2 separate regions of the Homo sapiens genome follow, and region 2 is linked to region 1. Evidence: fine-mapped expression QTL. A gene starts in region 1. The other region holds a variant in brackets. All regions are shown on one strand. Distances are from middle to middle. Region 1 holds the start of FOXO1 (forkhead box O1). Region 2 overlaps LINC00598 (long intergenic non-protein coding RNA 598).

What was found. PIP is the estimated chance that this variant, and not a neighbour inherited with it, causes the effect.
Region 2: its variant is fine-mapped to the expression of FOXO1 in monocytes (TOPMed, PIP above 0.99). The same link has a PIP of 0.9 or more in blood mononuclear cells and whole blood.

The regions. Positions count from the first base shown.
Region 1 is chr13:40,663,457-40,668,830 of GRCh38, reverse strand. It overlaps FOXO1 (forkhead box O1), which reads left to right and starts at 2,190. Exons shown (of 3, transcript NM_002015.4): 1 at 2,190-3,248. The coding sequence starts at 2,619. RefSeq lists an enhancer at 1,302-1,351 and silencers at 2,002-2,531, 2,762-2,901, 2,992-3,041, 3,562-4,071, 4,372-4,451.
Region 2 is chr13:40,426,092-40,431,465 of GRCh38, reverse strand. The region is part of intron 6 of LINC00598 (long intergenic non-protein coding RNA 598); the gene reads left to right. Among named protein-coding and RNA genes, the nearest start is that of LINC00598, 52 kb to the left of the region's middle. The variant A/G (reference allele first, on the strand shown) is at 2,962.

The sequences.
Region 1 (5,374 bases):
GCCTGCCTCGTCAATTTTTTTAAAGAAAGACCAAATAAAAGTAAACTATGACATTTGAAGAAACAATTGGGCAGGAGAGCCTCAAAGATTTCAAGGATTTGGGGAAAGTCTGTAGGAAGACTCCTTTAACCAAATAAATATTCTCTGACGCCCTGAAAAACCGGAATAGAAATGAAGGCAAGGCCAAATTTGAAGCTGGCTTCCTTTGCCAAGAATGATCCAGTAGGGCACCGCCTATTTTTAGGGTGCGGCTGTCTGGATCGGGGGCTGCTTCTGCAGAGTGTAATTGGAAAGGTGGGGGGAAGCAACAGCTGTACTTTGGGGGCCTGCCTTTGAGCTCATCATCTGAGTTACTGAGGTCCCCTAGCGGCTGTCAGAGGAGGCCCAGACTGTCCAAATTTGATAGTAAACGTGAAGAGACCACAAGACCAGGGTGGGAACCAGTCCCCGCCCGTCCCCAATCCATCCGGCTCACGCTCCCCACCCCACCCATGCCTAGTATCAGCAAGAAGCTGTTGTGATAAATAGATTATGAAGAAACAGGAGCCCGGACTAGAGAGACGATAGTGAGAATATAAAAGAAGAAAGATAATCTCTCTCAATCTTTTTAACTTTTGTAAGAGGCCTAATTTTTCCTTTTTTCCCCTCTTTTCTCTTTTATTTTTTCAACAACCTCTTGTCCAACTGACTAATTTTCTCTAGATGCCACTTTTTCCATTGCAGAATTACTTGTAAGAAAGAAAGGGATTAAAAAACAAGAGTTGGAAGCTGTCCTTTTGGACAAGATATTTAAAACCCTACTGTCCATCTTCCATCCTAAGTGGTCCCATCTTTCTAAAAGGAAATGCCTTCCATATTCTTCCTAAAAAAGCAAAAGCATAACAAAACAAAACTGGAAAACTGTTTCTTCTGCTTGAGACACAAGGGCCATTATCTTCCCACCTTTGGCCCCACTGATCCTTGACAGGATGTCCTGGACCTGCAGCCCAGATGAGGAAAGGTGGGGTGTGGGTGGGGGGTTGACTGACACACACAGCAAGTAGCCTCAAGGAATTTGGGGGTGGGGCAGGCTGCGCCCCAAGGCTTTGGTCCTATCTCCCGCCCCCCTTGCGTTTTTACTTAACACCCGATCACTTCCGTTGCAAATAAAAAAGAAGTAACAAACAGCTAAATTTAATTAGGGATAAGTAATAAAATGACCTGGTTCTCTCTAACTGCGCTCCTGAGCCCTTCGCTGCCGGCCCTGGACTTAGTGGACGGAGCGGGAGATTCCCGCCCAGGGGAAGAGGTTCCCACGGAGGGCATGCGGTCGCGGGTGCCTTTGGATTCGTGTGTTCAGGGAGGCCAGATAATCTCCTCCCCGCGCCGGAGCCCCTGTTCCTCATTTCTAGCATTTTAAAAAAGGTCAAGAATACAGTGAATCCGGCTGGGGGCTGCCGGCTGGGTGACGCGCCTCTGGCTAGACCGAATGGCACAGGCTGAGCCCGGGGGTGCGGACCGGTGGGCACGGAGAAGGGTCCCTCGGCGCGGACTCGACTGCAGGAGCCGCGGCGCCGGGGGTGGGGGGCGTGTGCCGCTCGCGAGGGGGCCGGAGGACTTGACAGATCGCAGCGAAAGAAAACATTAAACCAAAACAAAACCCACCGATTCCCCACGTCGTTCAGCAAAGACATCGTGGGTGGAGCCAGGAGGGAGCGATTGAGTAGAATTCCTCGCGGCCGCCTCCGCCCGCCCACCCCGCGCCCCCGGCCCTCGGCCCCCTGCCCTGCCAGCCCGCCGGGCTCGGCCCGCAGCGGAGGTCAGGGAGCAGCGAGCGCCTCCTCCCACCCGGGCTTCCCGAGTACTCGGCTCTGCTGCTCCGTAGTAAACAAAGTGTCGCCGGCGCCTCCACGCTGGTTTGCTTCCTAGCAATCAAAACACTGAGAAGGCGAGAGAATCACAGAAACACTCGAGAATTACCAGAAAATAATAGAGATCCAAAAAAAAAAAAAGGAGGTGAGTGTGTGAAAGAGAAAAACACCCCACTACCCCCCACCAGCCCACCGCCGCCTCCCCGTGGAAAACCGGGCCCCACCCAGCCCGGCGCCCACTGGCTGCCCGGGCGGCGGTGCCGCATGCCCATTGGCCGCGCGGGCTGTCGGTCAGGGGCGGGCCGGCGCGCGCGCCGCCGCGGGCGGGGGGCGGCGGCAGATCCCGTAAGTCGGGCGGCCTGGTAGTCGCAGCAGCCGCTGCCGCAGCCGCCACATTCAACAGGCAGCAGCGCAGCGGGCGCGCCGCTGGGGAGAGCAAGCGGCCCGCGGCGTCCGTCCGTCCTTCCGTCCGCGGCCCTGTCAGCTGGAGCGCGGCGCAGGCTCTGCCCCGGCCCGGCGGCTCTGGCCGGCCGTCCAGTCCGTGCGGCGGACCCCGAGGAGCCTCGATGTGGATGGCCCCGCGAAGTTAAGTTCTGGGCTCGCGCTTCCACTCCGCCGCGCCTTCCTCCCAGTTTCCGTCCGCTCGCCGCACCGGCTTCGTTCCCCCAAATCTCGGACCGTCCCTTCGCGCCCCCTCCCCGTCCGCCCCCAGTGCTGCGTTCTCCCCCTCTTGGCTCTCCTGCGGCTGGGGGAGGGGCGGGGGTCACCATGGCCGAGGCGCCTCAGGTGGTGGAGATCGACCCGGACTTCGAGCCGCTGCCCCGGCCGCGCTCGTGCACCTGGCCGCTGCCCAGGCCGGAGTTTAGCCAGTCCAACTCGGCCACCTCCAGCCCGGCGCCGTCGGGCAGCGCGGCTGCCAACCCCGACGCCGCGGCGGGCCTGCCCTCGGCCTCGGCTGCCGCTGTCAGCGCCGACTTCATGAGCAACCTGAGCTTGCTGGAGGAGAGCGAGGACTTCCCGCAGGCGCCCGGCTCCGTGGCGGCGGCGGTGGCGGCGGCGGCCGCCGCGGCCGCCACCGGGGGGCTGTGCGGGGACTTCCAGGGCCCGGAGGCGGGCTGCCTGCACCCAGCGCCACCGCAGCCCCCGCCGCCCGGGCCGCTGTCGCAGCACCCGCCGGTGCCCCCCGCCGCCGCTGGGCCGCTCGCGGGGCAGCCGCGCAAGAGCAGCTCGTCCCGCCGCAACGCGTGGGGCAACCTGTCCTACGCCGACCTCATCACCAAGGCCATCGAGAGCTCGGCGGAGAAGCGGCTCACGCTGTCGCAGATCTACGAGTGGATGGTCAAGAGCGTGCCCTACTTCAAGGATAAGGGTGACAGCAACAGCTCGGCGGGCTGGAAGGTGAGTGGACTCGGCGCGCGGCCGGACCTTGGGGGCGCGGTGGGTCAGGCGAGGGCGCAGCTGTGCAGGTTTGCTCGGCCTGAAGGTGCGGAGCAGGAGGGCAGCGCGTTCCCAGGAGGGCGGGCGAGAAGCGGTGGTCGCGGTGGCCTCGCCCGGGTCCGGTCGGGGACGGCAGTAGGTGTGCGTGCGCGCCAGTCAGGAGTTCGCGTGGGACGCGGTAAGGGGCTCGTTGGGGAACTAAGTAAAGAAAGTGCGCCAAGAAGTGGACGTCAGAGCGAGGCCGAAAAGTTTGCCAGTGAAAGGAGAAAGGGGTTCGCTGGGAGCGGCAACCCCCGGCCCGCGCCGACTGCTTCGGCTGCCCCTTCCCTCCCGGACCTCCGCGGGGGGAGGGCGGGTTCTCTCCGGCCGCGCCGCGGAGCTGTTTCCGCCGGGCGCGGCGGGGGAGGGCGCGGCGAGGGGCCCCGGAGCCTCGCTGCCCCGGGACCGGGCTGCAGGTGGAGGGGACAGGCAGGGCGCGACCGGCCGGGGACGGTGCAGGGCCTGCCGGGCAGTTTCTGGAGGCGGTGCGCATTTTGCTTTGTTTTGGTTTTCTCCGGAGTGGCCTCGAGTGCCGGGGGCCCGGCGTCCCGAGCCCGAGGTGGTGCCTCCGACACGTGCGAAGGGGCGGCCACCGCCTGCGGAGCGCCGGCGCCTGGCCGCGCGGGGCGAGCTAAAGTTCAAGTGTGACCCTCGGCGGGGGCGGGCGCGGGCGGTGGCGGTGGCGGTGGCGGTGGCGTGGGAGGGGCCCCGGGCGCAGGAAGCCCGCGCCTTTAAAGGGCCAGCGCGTCGGGGCCGGGCGCCGTGGGGCCAGCGTTTCTCCATGCGGGGAAGCGCCCGAACTTGGTCTTGCCCCTGGTAGGAGGCTTTTAGTTAGAAACACAGAGGCTGCCCTGAGGGGCCGGGGGCTGGGATGTGTGAGTCTTTTCCTGCCTTGCCACCCTATTCTTGAGCATGGAGGACCAGGCGGGGGGGCTTTGCGACCAATGTTTTGAGGGAGTCGGAGTGGCGGTGCGCGTCGAGGGAGCGGTGCCTTGAAGGAGGATTTTTGCCATTTTTGCCTTTCAGAGCGTGGCCAGGAGAGACTTAGCGTGGGGGCAGGCACTTCCCGACTCCGAGGAGAAGGCCCGGGGGCCCTCGGCTCCGGGGAGGCTTCCCGGGGGCGGGGTCCAGTCGTGGCGCGGCCTCCCCAAGCTGACAGTTTCTCACTGTCACCGGTGGCGGAATTGCTGTAAAGGCTGTCTAGTTGAGCTAAACACCTCCCTCCCCTCCTCCGAGACGGAGTCTCGCTCTGTCGCCAGGCTGGAGTACCGTGGCGCGATCTCGGCTCACTGCAACCTCCGACTCTCTGGTTCAAGCGATTCTCCTGTCTCAGCCTCCCGAGTAGCTGGGATTACAGGCACGAGCCACCACGTCGAGCTAATTTTTGTGTTTTTAGTAGAGACCGGGTTTCACCATGTTGGCCAGGATGTTCTGGATCTCCTGACCTCGTGATCGGCCCGCCTCGGCCTCCCAAAGTGCTGGGATTACAGGCGTGAGCCACCGTTCCCGGCCGAGCTAAACACCTTTTTAAAACATACCTTTCTTCGCCTCTCATATTGGACTCCACGGCATAATAAAGATTGGTCTTTGCTGCGCAGTTGTTAACACCAAGGTTATTTTACACACAGTGTCATCCCTGTGGTTAATGCGTGTCAAAAGGGTTAAGTTACTCACACCTTATTGAAGTTCCTTTAGAAGGAATTCAAGATTCATTTTATTTTTTCCAAAGTGTGTTTTAGAGTAAAGGTATCACTTATCGCTTCATTACCAGGCATTACATGCAATTTTACCAAGTGTTTCAAAAAAGTAAAGTGCCTTCTTACCGTTAAGTTCAGCATATATTCTATTAAGTCACAAAATCGAAATTGTCTGCCAAATCTTGTTTTACTTAACATTTGAATTTAAGTACTTGACTTACTTGCTCATCTATCAATTCCACTTCAGCTGTTACAGAGTATTAGCCATTTAAAAAAAAAATCCTCCCCCCTTTTTTTGCATTCAAAGTACAGTGTGTACTTACACCATTCTTTAGTCCTTGGAAATGGATA
Region 2 (5,374 bases), 240 kb after region 1:
CCATCTGGAATTTTCCAGGAAACTCAGGTTATCTAGGTCAATGGTAAAACTGCACAGCTTGGTAGAATGCTGCTGGAGAAGATTTTGTCTTCTTCTTTTTGTGTGTGAAATAATTGTTTATTCAAGAAAAGGGATGGATTCAATGCTGCTTTTTCCTTCCAGCTTTTTTGGGTCTCCAGATACAGGGGCAAAACTGATGTTTAGCAGTTCACAAATCTAGGACTACGAGGTGTAAGTGATATGGGACTTCTGATCAATGAGATAGCTTATTAGCACCCAAAGACCCAAGGAGTGGACATTGGTGTTGCCTTTGGTGTGCTAGTGATGCTGTTTGTCGTGGAAAGGTGTGTGAGCTTGCGGAGCATGTACCAGGTCAGCCTTAAGTGAAAGAGAATGGGCCTAGGTGGCCAAGGATCCTTATGCTCTGTTCATTCCTATCCTAGAGTTTTCTGTCCTCCCCAAGATCAAGAGAATATGACAGTGACCCTTTTTCTTACCCAGTTTCTGCATGTGTGTGCATTCAGTTGTGTGCACACATGCATGTATGTAACAACATTACGGCCAGTCTCAGATACTCAGGGAGTGATGTGAATGGTAAACCCAGGTTCATTGGTTTGGGGCTTGGCCACTTCAGCCAGCCCTTGCCATCACTAAGCTCCACTGATGTGCTCTCTCTCTCTCTTACACACACACACACACACACACACACACACACACACACGTGGAGAAGCACAGCAACTCACCAAGAAGGAAGCAAAGCAGATTCTATCTCATGCGCACACTCACTGGCACCGCCTAAGCAGGCCTTGACTACTTTTCTTTCTGAGAAAGGCATGCTATTGCAGGGAGCAACATAAAAGAACAGCACCATCATCAGTGGACCTTAAGAACGCTACCATAAGCAGCATGCCTTCATCTCACTATGCCTGCGTGACGCTACAGAGCCCTGGTTGAGCTTCCTGGGGAGGTATTTCTGGCCATGTGCTCAGAGAGCCTGGCACCTGTGGCTTTTCTCACCCCTAACACAGGCCTGGAATGGGCTTTCTGACCATTATCCCTCTCCCTCTCCTGTCTGTGGAGGCAAAGAACAGAGAACTGCCTTCTGGCCATCTGGTTTCTTTCAGGCCAAGGGATTATGGGCAAGCTTCTTTCCAAGCCGTGAAACCAAGTGGAAATCCCTGGGGAGTGTCTAAACTCAAACTTCTGCCACCCAGGGAAGGAACCTGCCATGCCACGAATTCCTTATCCACTGCCACCTTGACATTTTTCACAGTCAACAGTGTGTTCTGTAGCCTCGCGACATGCCTAATTTGTGTTGTATTTTGAATATCCTTAAAAATGTCCATGTAATGGGAGAAAAACAATGTGTGTGTCTAAGCAGAGTCCTGCCTCCACGTGCAAATCTTTCACTGGCAGAAGTCACATTAATGCTAATGAAATCTGAATGCTGAAGCCCTGTTCTGCAGCAGGGGATGGTCTCCCCTGTGCTGAAACACATTTTCTTCTCATTAGTCCCACCATCTTTATTAATATTAACGGCAATAAAGAGAATTAGGCAGGCTGGCTTCTGGCAGAAACCAGAATTAATGGGGGTGGGGGGGAAGACGAATGCTTGAGGAGTTTAGATGCACTTTTTTAGTGGATGAACTGCATCCTTCTGGGACCCTCATCGGAGTTATTTTGTTCTAAATGAGGTATATGGTGAATCATTGTCATCTTGCAATGGTTACCACTAATGGGGAACTGCTCACAGCCAAAGCCCTCGTTCTAGAGAAAACCTATCCTGGATGTTTTACAGTTGGTGTGTATGCATGCGTGTGTGTGTGTGTGTGTGTGTGTGTGTGTGTGTTTTATGTGTGCATGCTTATATTCATGCATCTATAGTCAAAGGCCAGCTTAATCAGGATTTTTCACCATGAGTAAGTTTGCTACGGGGATCCATTGTTTAATGTGTATCCATGAACATTTCAGAGCTTTAATGTTGTAATGACTGTTTCACCTACCCTGTGAGATATTTTAAAGGGAAATACAGTGAGGGAAGTGGGGGAAGAGTCAGGGAAACTTTCTTTCATAGCAGAAGAGAAATTTTCATGCTGTGGGAAAGTCAATCAAAAGTGGTGAATGATGTATCTCCTACTGATTCCATTCCTCTTGGAAATTTCTCTAATTTTTGCTGCTTATTCAAGCATTGAATGTCACTATGTCAAGTCCCCCTACTGTTCTCAGGGCTGTCTGTGACTCTGGGAGGGGTTTAGACACCTGTATGTTGTCCCCAGGTAGGCAAACAGCAAGGACAGTATGGGGGTTGGGAGGCCTGGGAGAGCACATAGTTCGTTGAGAATTGCTGGTTTTTCTATTCCTGCAAGCAATAACTGTGCCATGGGGATTATGACTGGTAGCAGGAAGGAATGAAATGTGGTCCATGATCAGCTGGAGTCCTTTCTGGTTACACATGGAGGATAGAATGTCTCACCAGTACTCTCTGGGGCACAGGAAAGGACAGCATCTTCAGTTGAACTTCTGTGGCTCATTCTGGAGCTGTTAGCAGCAAAGATGTGCTTACACCTATCTTTACTACTAGGCAGGTGCCCTGGAAGCCTCCAGGGTGTGTGACTCAATGCAAAGGGGTCCCACTTAGAAGCTGGGATACCCAGGTTGGAATCCATGTGCTGACAACATAGTTGTAACATCAGTGGTGTGATGTGGTTGGCAAAACCCTAGTGCACTCTTAGGGTGCATGAACAGAGGACACCATCTAGAATGGAGTGGGTGAGGGGTCCACCAGAAAGGTCATGCCTGGAGAACTAAATTCAGTTCTGGGTGCCACACTTGATGAGCAATATAGATAAGTCAAAACACTTTCAGAGGGCAGTATCCAGGGCAGAGAGGGGATATGAAACCATGTCGCATCAGGAACTCTAGGAGGAACTGAGGCCACTGTCCTGAAGAAGTGATTTGGGG[A/G]AAGGAGTGACTAATCTGCAAGAGCTGTCATGGGGAAGAGGAATTAGATTCCTTTTATGAGGCCTTAGAAGTGAAGTCTGGGACCCCAGCAGAAGCCATGCAGAAATGCATTTTAATTGCATGTCAGAAGGATCTTTCTTATAGTTGCAAATGTCTAAAGATACTTCAGATTGTTGCTGTTGGGGATAATTACACCAAATTCTGCAATTCTGACATGGGTGTTTTGATGCCATGGAAATTTTGATGCCATGCATTGAGGTGGTCATTTTGACACCAAATGCCTTTTAGGATAGAATCAAACCCTTTGGGCAAGAGCAGAACATAGCAAATGGTTTCATTCCTACTATTAAACTTGCTCCTCTCTTTTAAATTAAGTGGGAAACAGATGTTGTTGGCACATCTCCTTACACCCTCTTTCAGCCTGCCTCTTCTCTTCCCTGACCCAGGCTCCATCCCTGGGGCCCACCTACCCTTCACTTGTCCCTTTTGAGTAGCACAAGGATGGGGATATGATGACCCTGAAGATGAGTGACAGATCTCTGGGGTGGAGCTGGGGTTAGAGCTGAAAATACAAAAATAGTTACTTCTATTTATTTGTATTTTAGCGTAATTGATATTTTCTGCTGTAACCAGAAAGCCTCATTTATAATTTTATGCTTCACATGTCAAGATGTCCATGTGTCAAAATGGCCTCATCAAAATGCTGTTCTTACAACTAGCTGGACATACATTAGTCAAGTATATTGTACAAGGAACTCAAGCATCATAGGGGTGGTTGAACATGGTTATTTATAAGGTATTTTGTAATTCTGAAATTCTGTGCTCTAACTCAATAGTTCCCAGATGCAGGTCCTTGGACCATGCTAGTCTATGACAAAGTTTTTACCATGTGCATTAAAATGCAGAAAAAGAAAAACAATGGATTTAATTTTCTCTAAGCCTGCGTTTATTCAATTGTAAGGACTTTCTTAATTCTGAGATAAGGGTCTTTCTTTTCTTTTTGTTGTTGTTAAAATCTCCTTCATTTTGAAATTATAGTGATAGTAGGTGGTATTTAAAAATGTCAATGGACAAAATAAATATGCCTGTCTCACTATTACATTTTTTTTCTTTTCCCAATGTATTAAGTCCCAAAGTCTGGGAGGCCTGATTTAAGTCACCTAATCTTTGGAATCTTATTTATTTATTTATGAAACGTGCATAGGCTAACCTGGGTTCCATATCTCCCAGCATGATCATAAACTTCTCATAGGCTAATGTAGATCACTGTTATTTGTAGCTGAAAATGACATATCCTTTGTAGGAGACAAATGGCAGAATAAATGTGGCAATGTCGTTGTTAAAATGAGTTGTGTGGATAGACAGGATGGTGGGGCAGAAGTAAAACTTTCTCCTCTTGCCCTATTTTTTTTCCTTCTCAGCTTCCAGTCGCCCAAATAAATGGCAGCCAGGGAGCTTGGCTGTGTTCTTTCAGAATCACTATGACAAAGTTTCCGTCAGGGCAGCCAGAAGAAGATGAGTGTGCCCAGGGAAGCCAGCACACAAGCCCTTTGATGGAGCATGGTGGTGGGGCATTGGGGGTTGAAGGTTGGGGAATAGCCCTAAGAATGGGGAAGAGGAGTGGTCTTGGCTGTCCCAACACAGGTGTGAACATAGGGGTACGTTTATCAGGGCTGCATTTTCTAGCCAGGTGTGAGACCACACCCTACACCAATTAAATCATGAATCTCTGCTGACACCACAGTGTTCTAGGTGACTCTCATACATAGTCAGAATGGAGACATATGCTCTAAGCCCTACGTGGGGGCGTGGGAGGAACACTTTGAAAAGAACAACCAGGTTATAGCTTATTTGTGCTGATTTCTATCAAATGTAGCAAATTCCCCCCTTCAGTTTTCAAAGAACCATTACAGTTGGCAGCCATCTTGGCTAGAGCTCACTCTAAGGCATCTGCTAGTTGTATTTGATCTCCATCTTTTGTCGTAATATCTTAACAAGAGAAATAATGAAGTATTGAGGTTAAGAGTTCAGCTTCTGAAGAAATGGCTTAGTATAAAATGGCACTGACAAAAGGCACTGTTCCTCATTTACTGGGTTAATGGCTACATATCCCTCCATTACCCTTGTTAAACTTAAAAGAATTTGTCAAGCAGGATGTGAACTTCCACGGCTTCCTAGGAACCATTCCGTGGCTCTCAAAGAGATTCCAAGTGAGCTTTTCCCCACCACATTCCCAGAAGCATGAGCCATCGCACTCCTGAGAAGGGGAGCCCCGTGCGAGGAGGGACTGCCTGCCCCTCGGTGGGCCTGTCCTACACCTTTGCTGCACACCCGCTGCCCATTGCTTAGTTCTACAGCTGTAAGAACACTGGGCACAGGCGCTGCACCCCTCATTTTACTTATGGGAAAAACT